Regions from separate parts of the Homo sapiens genome. Here region 2 is reported to be linked to region 1. The links are microRNA targets in miRTarBase. Many come from high-throughput screens and were not tested one by one. Region 1 holds a microRNA gene; the other region holds the end of a gene's coding sequence.

Region 1 (4,152 bases):
TCAAGACTATCTCTACAATCCTGCCTTAGCCGGATGCTTCTGAAACATTCTCTCCTTCAAGATCAGTGATCACATTTTCCCCAAACTACAGGGACTCAGTAATGAGAACTGAAATACTTTTCAGTATGATATCCAGTCCAGAACATGTTGAAATACCAAACAAGAAGACCCATAACCAAACATATTAACAATAAAATGCTAAATTATGTAGCATGAATGGCTACCACATATCTATGTCCTCCATCATTTATTTCAAAAAGAAAAGCCTTGTCCCTCACTTCATAATCAGGGCTCAAATATATTCAGTATATAGGAGCTTTTTTTAAAAAATGTCTCTCCCCCTAGACTTGCTTTATCAATTAAAGATTCCATTGATTACAGAAAAGGGTCATAAGACAAATGTGAGTAATGTGTTCCAGCATTGTGCTGAATTACTGATCACAAAATAAAAATACAATCCAGCCTGGACATTGGATGACTAAGTTTTGTTACTCAGGCTTTATACTGATAACCCTAAAGTTCCAAAACAAGTTGTGAATGGCAGCTTTGCAAAGGTATACATGTGAACTCAACGCTTAGTCAAGCTGAAGTGCAGGAGGGAGTTACTCAGCTGTGACACACCCAGTGTAACCAAGCCACAAAGTTACTTTCACCTGTACACAAAATACTCTTAGAGGAATTTTTTTTTAAGTTTCTTTGTTCAAGTGACACCATATCAAGAAAGCCAAGTTCTTCAAGGAAGCAAAGTTCTAAGGTTACCAAGAAGCAGCTAAAAACTAAAGGATCTTAAAAAAAAAAAAAAAAAAAAGATGGCTCATAGCAAGAAAAAATTTAATGGCTGACACAGAGCAGTCACTCAATTTTTATACCAGAAACAAACTTAGTGTATCAAATTTTATGGGAGAAATGATAGGAGTTTGGAAATACCAGGTGGTCTCAGGAGGTCTCTCATAACTGTCAGTTGTTTTATTTGGGGGTAAGGGAGAGTAAACTAATGATAAAATCTGTGAGTTTTAGTTAAAATTCAAATAAACTTCCAGATTCACTCCTCAAGCAATAACTTGCTACAACTGTCACAACCAAAAGTCTTTATCAAAAATATTATTTGCCCACCTTCCTCTGCTGACTTAATCTTTACAAAGATACTAACTCCCTAACGGCCAAATACTAGTTGGAAAGTGCATATTTTAAACGGCAAGGATACAGAGAGAGAGAGAGAAAGAGAGAGAAATCGATCAACACTCTTTTCTTGCTGCTTGATGCTATTCCCCACATCAAAGGGAAAAAAAGTAGAAGGCTCAACAAACATACCTAAGAACACTGGTTCTATAAAAAACTTAATTGGCTGCAAGATTGTCAACAGTTAATAGGTAAATTGTTATATCATGGTATGCATTTTAACTCATAATGGTATTTAGGTTAAAATATCTTAAATAACAGAATAGTTCATATCCTCTTCAAAAATAATTAACTGCAATGTTGACTACTTTGACCCCAGTTTTAGGAATTGAAAGGTATTCAGCAAATACTATTAACACAACTAATTAGAATTCAGTCTCTACACAAAAAGGGAGGTGAGATTATTACTTTCGTTCTTGTGGCAGGTATACTTTAAGTTGGAAGCTACAGTTAAACGTTCATCAAGTTCTATAAACACTTAATTCTCTGTTAGCATTTTATACGCAATATACATTTGAGCATATAATTTTAAAATCAGGTACAAATTATTTGATGAACACTTCTCTGTAACAGAAAAAGCAATTTCAGCTAGTTTTCACAAACTATCCAAATAATTCTTCCCAAAGAACCTAGATTATGAGAACCTACAAAACTCACTATCATAGTGAATTCTAACTTTCACAGACTGTATTCAGAAACTTGACATACGCCCAAGCAAATATCACCTGCACTGAAGGGTCAACATCTCCTTTGAAGTAACACACTTTACTAAAATAACTCTAAACTATGGCTAACTACAGGACAGCCTACTCCAACTGCTAAAAAAACTCTAGTATGGCAGGAAAAAAACTTTGTCCACAGTAGATAAATCCACTGAATTTCTTGCTTGCTTAAATTCAGTATGTGTAATTTAATTATTAAGACATCGTTGCTGAACGATGAAGTTTTAACCAGAAATCCTTGTAAAGGTTTCCAAACAAGGCAAATCAGTGAGCATAAACCCAACCGTTTACCGGGACTCAGAATTCCCGAAATGGAGGCCTAGGGAAGATAATTGCGAAGATTTGGCCAAGTGACCCCACTATCAGCCAAGCTGTCAGTCACCCTGCATTAGCAAGTGCTATTAACACTTAAAAGAGTAGTTTTCTGACATTTACTTACATAGTAATGGTTGCCTAACGCTGTATTCTGCCACTTTTTAATGTTATTGAACGTGAAATTTTCTATTTTCTACTAAACTATCCCACTGTGAATCTTAAATATATAGTACTTAGCACATACTGACCTGAGTTTTTCTCCATCAAATGCCAACTGAGAAAATGTACGGTACCAAGTAAAAACGCATGGGGACAAGTTCAAATAATCTTCCCTTTGTTTATGAGCCATGTATTAAACAGCTGTTAACACCCGTCAAGAGGTTTTCACTAAAATAAAAGTATCCGCCTCTGACACTCAAACGTTTTGGTCAATTGTAACAAAATTAAACCCACTCATCTCTTCACACTGAACGGGGGCGGGGAGAAGGGACGCTAAGGTATGAAAAGGGAAAATGTAAAACTGGGCAAATTTTCTATTTTAAGATTTCCAAATAGTGCCTTTAAAATTTATAAATAGTGCCTGCACTTTTTCTCCAAAAGCAGCCGCTTCTCAAAGAGGATAAACCATTCCCGGAAATGGGCAAAAGAACACACTACAGGGTGCGGACCGCTACAGGCAAGGGCGGACAAGACTGCCAGGAGCAAACGCGTCCAGGAAAGAAGCCGCCCACCGGAAAGTCCCAACTAGAGTTCCCTTCCTTTTCCCCTCGGCGTGCGGCTCCCTGGGTAGGGGGAGGAGAAAGCGCCCGACATGCGCACGCGGCCAGACGTCACTGCGTTCTCTCCCCGCCCCCCAGGGGAGCCGTCTGACGTCACGGGGCGGAGGCTGCCGAAGGCGCCGCCGTTGACCCTGCTGTTACCAGGCGCGCGCACAGCCAATCAGCACCCCGCGCCGGCGCCGGCCGGCCTTTGAACTCGGCACGGCAACTTCCTGCTGTTTGGCGAGTACACAGTGCAATGCAGTATGTCTGTCAGCGCTGCGGCACAAAGGAACAGCCATTTTGTGACTGAGCTGGACCTGCATCAAGATGCCAGGGGCTCAAAGAGCTGCTGCGTGCCCTATCGAACTGCCTTTTATGTCGGCACCAGAGTTCCCCAGAAGAGCAGAGAGGGGGAAGGAAATAGGCTTTGGTATTTCAGATTTCTATTAGTTTAGATTCAGTCTTCTCCAAAATCCCGTTTTTTAATGTATTATCAGCGTCATAAAATGGCTGCCAGTTAAACTGCCTGTTCTAGTACACAAGTAACTGCATTATGCCATTTCTAATCATCCCCAGCCTTTTAGAATATCTGGTAAAGCGCCCCTGAAAATTGTAGGATTTACCCGCACCTCAGGTTATAAAAATAAATCTGGCTCAAAGGCAGACGATTTGGAGATAAATTTAATAAACTCGTTCAATTCTTAAGATAAATTGCTAACGTGGTGCCGTGGAGAACACACTGAACTCTTTGTGTGCACACAGTCCCGTTTTCATTCTTTGATGTTACTTAAGTTATCCCCAAGCTGCAAATTATTCAGATAAAAAGTATGGTATACTTCTCGTATGTCCATCATTAGAACTTTGTTTTAAATACTTAGAAATTTTACAAATATCAATCAAATGTTTTTAAAATCGCGTTTTTTAAAGTTTTTAATTTTCAAAAATCGTGATAAAGTATAACAGACTTTAGCATTAACTTCAAATTAAAATACAAACTTATATAACCACTATTAACTACTGCACTATTTCCAAAAACAGGGTATTACCAGATTTACCTAAACTTGCACTCATTCTTTCCAGATACTAAAGTAATTCTCAGACCAAAGTTTACTTGACCTGCAAACTCATTTCCTCTTCTGTGGCTCAGGCTGCAAAGGTGATTTTCGTAGTATTCC
Region 2 (4,000 bases), not on the chromosome of region 1:
GCACAAGGAACAGCCCTATAGAAGAAAGAAGGCCATTTCCCAGCAGAGCTAATAGAAAGGGGGATCATATCATGCGAGGGCTCTTGTCACTTTGACAAGCTTGTCATGGAAATAATATGACATGGTGATTTGCAAAAGAGGACTGTGAAAAATTAGACAACGGATCAGCATTCACCATGGGACATGTCAAGGTACACGTCAAACATTTCTATGATGGAAATATTGGCCAGGCGCGATGGCCCACACCTGTAATCCCAGCACTTTGAGAGGCTGAGGTGGGTGGATCACAAGGTCAGGAGTTCGAGACCAGCCTGTCCAACATGCTGAAACCCCATCTCTACTAAAAGTACAAAAATTAGCCGGGCGTGGTGGCAAGCACCTGTAATCCCAGCTACTTGGGAGGCTGAGGCATGAGAATTGTCTGAACCCAGGAGGCAGAGGTTGCAGTGAGCTAAGATCACGCCACTGCACTCCAGCCTGGGAGACTCCATCTTGGAAAAAAAAAAAAAAAGAAATATTAATAACAGTGATAGTTCCTTTATAAATTGGTTTTAATTATATAATTTCTGTGTGACTCAGTTTACTGAGTGTTAAGTTTTGTAAGTGTTCAATTCTTTTAAAATCACTCTGGACACTAAAATGTTCACTGTGATTATATCTGAGTCATACATAAGGGGTTTTTTTTAAAATAAACTTTTTAATTGAGGTTTTCTCATTAAACATATTTTCAATGTCTCTTCAATGAAAAAGGATTTCTTGTGAAAAATAATAATAATAATAACAGACGCTTCAAAACAGTGTAGGCCTGGCCAGGCATGGTGGCTCACGCCTGCAGTTCCAGCACTTTGGGAGGCTGAGGTGGGTGGATCACCTGAGGTCAGGAGTTCGAGACCAGCCTAGCCAAGATGGTGAAACCCCATCTTTACTAAAAATGGAAAAATTAGCCAGGCGCCATGGTGGCAGGTGCCTATAGTCCCAGCTACTCGGGAAGCTGAGGCAGGAGAATTGTTTGAACCCAGGAGGCAGAGGCTGCAGTGAGCTGAAATCATGTCACTGCACTCCAGCCTAGGTGATGGAGTGAGACCCTGTCTCAAAAAAAAAAAAAGAAAGAAAGAAAGAAAAAAACAGTGTAGACCTCCTAAACAAAATGCCAACAAATCAAATTTTATGATACATAAAAAAATAACACATCACAGCAAAGTGGAGTTTATTCTAAGAATGCAAGGTGACTTAGCATTCAAAAACCAATCTATGGCTGGGTGCAGTGGCTCACACCTGTAATCTCAGCACTTTGGGAGGCCGAGGTAGGAGGATCACTTGAGGTCAAGAGTTCCAGACCAGCCTGGGCAACATAGTGAGACTCTATCTCTACACTACAGAAAAAAAACAAAACAAAACAAACAAACAAAAAAAACACTTTTTTTTTTAAATTAGCCAGATATGGTGGCAAATGTCTGTAGTCCCAGCTACTTGGAAAGCTGAGGGCTGAGGTGGGAGGCTCGTCTGAGTCTGGGAGGTTGAGGCTGCAGTGAGCCATGACCTGGTGGCTGGGTAACAGAGTGAGACCCAGTCGCAGAAAAAAAAAAGAAAGAAAAAGAAAAAGTGATGGATATCACTTCCAAGATTATGCTATAAAAAGACACTGGCTTTCATCCTGGCTCTCTTTCTCTCCTTCTCTCTTGGAAAGCTCTGAGGGAAGCCGGCAGCCATATTGTGAGGCAGCCCTGTGCAGGTGTCTACATGGCAAGGGAACAAGGCTGCCAAACCACATGAGTGAGCTTGGAAGCAGGTCATCACCAGCCAAACCTTCAGATGAGACCACAGCCCTGGCCAATGGCTGACAAGTATCCCAATTTTCCCGGGACTGAGAAGTTTCCTAGAACAGGGAACTTGCACTGCTAAATCCAGGATAGACCTGGGCAAACCCTATTGACAGCTGAACTGCATACTCCTGAGAGTCCTTGAGCCAGAGGCACCCAGCTTAACTGTGCCAAATTCCTAATGTTTGTTCTTAAGCTGCTGTTTGTGGTAATGTAATATGTAGCAATGGATAACTAACCTAGCACATCACAAATGAGCACATTAAAATGGGTGATACACTTATAACAAGGCATTCAACGTCACTGCTTATCAGAGAAATGCAAAGTAAACTTAGAACAAGTTATTACTCCATACTCACAAAAATGGCTAAAATTTGAAAAGACAGAAAATACCCAGTGTTGGCAAGGATGTGGAGCAACTGGAACTCTCATACACTACTAGTGGGACCGCAAAACAGCACAACCACTTTGGAAACTGTTTTCTAGTAACTACCAAAGCTAAATATTACACATATCCTATGTCCCAGCAATTCTACCCTTACATATACACCAACAGCAGGCATCCACTGGTTCACCAGGACGTGGACAAGAACGCTGATCTCTGGACAATACCTTGGACGTTATTCACACCCACTCCCCGCAGACTACATTGAACACTCCACAAAGAAGAGGCAGGAAAAAAGGGGAGAAGGGAGGAGAGGAGAAGGAAAGAAGGGAGACAGCTCTCTACCAGCAACAGGGGCCTCTGCCAGGCGTGCTATCATTCTGTGACAGCTAGGAGCTTAGTTAGGTCTTCAACCGGCTGCTCAGAGAGGGGATAAGAAATTGCTCTCCCAGGTCCCTGGCCCTGGTTGGGAACTAATTTTCAAAGTGTCTTCCACCCAGGACAATTCTTTTCTTTTTTTTTTTTTCTTTTCTTTTTTTTTTTTTTTTTGAGATGGAGTCTCACTCTGTTACCCAGGCTGGAGTGCAGTGGCACGATCTCGGCTCACTGCAATCTCCACCTCCTGGGTTCAAGCGGTTCTCCTGCCTCAGCCTCCCAAGTAGCTGAGACTAGGTGCGCACCACCACGCCCGCCTGATTTTTGTATTTTTAGTAGAGACGGGGTTTCACCATGTTGGTCAGGCTGGTCTTGAACTCCTGACCTGGTGATCCGCCTGCTTCAGCTTCCCAAAGTGCTGGGATTACAGGCGTGAGCCACCGCGCCCAGAAAAATTCTGTTCAAGCAAACTCGCAGGCTGATCTGGGTCTATAAAAATGATCAAAACAGAGGAGCTCTGACCAATTTGAAGGCCCCCCTTCCAGCCTCCTCCTCCCAGCTATGTCCCTGCTAGGCTGACCACAACACCCCCAGAGACCCAGGTAATTACCTGCCAACCGTAGGTGTCCTGCTGCTGGGTTTTCACCCCTGACCCATCCCAGACCCACCCCAGGCCCCGAGTCTGCACTCACCCAGCTCCAGCCTGGGACTATACCAGCCCGTCGTAGAGGGACAGCGCCTGCACAATGGACGGGTCTGCCTTGGAACCCTCCTGGAACTCCTGCAGGGTCAGCTTCCCGTCGGCATTCTGTGAGCAGAGAGAGGCGGCTGAGGGTGCAGGGCCTCCCAGGAGAGGGCTCTAGACAAGCCCAGCCCAGGGCCGGTCCCAAGAGCCCTTCCAAGGTTAGATCAGGAGGGAGGCAACGTGGCTCAGGGCCTACAAGCAGCCAGCACCAGACAGACCTCGGCACTCATGGCAGGGTGGCCTTGGGCCGTGGCCCACCTCTCTGGGCATGTTTCTTCACCTGGGGATGGAGGGTAATTACCTGGCTTCCTCCAGGCACTCGGGTGACAGCTCTGTGCTTGACCAACTGGAAGTGCCCTGTAACTCCACACGTGTCATGGTTAATGCTATTAAACCCCATCAATGTGAGTAACTGACAAGGCTGAGAGCCTCGTGCAGTTCTCTGGGGTCACTCTTGGAAGGGCATTTAAACTGCTCCTGGAGCAGCCCACACTGGACCCTGGGAGACCCGGCAGGGGGCTGGACATGGCTCAGAAAGAGGAATTTTAGTGGGTCTCTCGGGGAGGGGATGTTTGGGCCAGAATCCCTTCCCCGGAGCATCTCTCAAGGAAGCCGGCGGACCACAAGGAAAAGGCCACGGAGAGCACCTACTCGATCTCGGGTATCCAGAGAGGG

What was found. Region 1 holds the annotated microRNA hsa-miR-3175 (CGGGGAGAGAACGCAGUGACGU, at 3,044-3,065, opposite strand). A microRNA usually pairs through its seed, bases 2 to 8, with sites in the 3' UTR of a target mRNA and lowers its output. Matches are read on the target gene's strand: a 7mer-m8 pairs with bases 2 to 8, a 7mer-A1 pairs with bases 2 to 7 and ends in A, and an 8mer does both.
Region 2: miRTarBase lists NCS1 as a target of hsa-miR-3175. The part of its 3' UTR that is shown has no 7-base or 8-base seed match.

What each region holds. Positions count from the first base shown.
Region 1 is chr15:92,903,321-92,907,472 of GRCh38, reverse strand. It overlaps MIR3175 (microRNA 3175), which reads right to left and starts at 3,074; the gene lies at 2,998-3,074. All of the region lies in intron 2 of CHD2 (chromodomain helicase DNA binding protein 2), which reads right to left. RefSeq lists enhancers at 2,781-3,020, 3,301-3,480, 2,342-3,541 and a silencer at 3,181-3,230.
Region 2 is chr9:130,225,777-130,229,776 of GRCh38, reverse strand. NCS1 (neuronal calcium sensor 1) reads right to left here. Exons shown (of 8, transcript NM_014286.4): 7 at 3,273-3,388. The coding sequence ends at 3,290. Among named protein-coding and RNA genes, the nearest start is that of MIR12126, 14 kb to the left of the region's middle.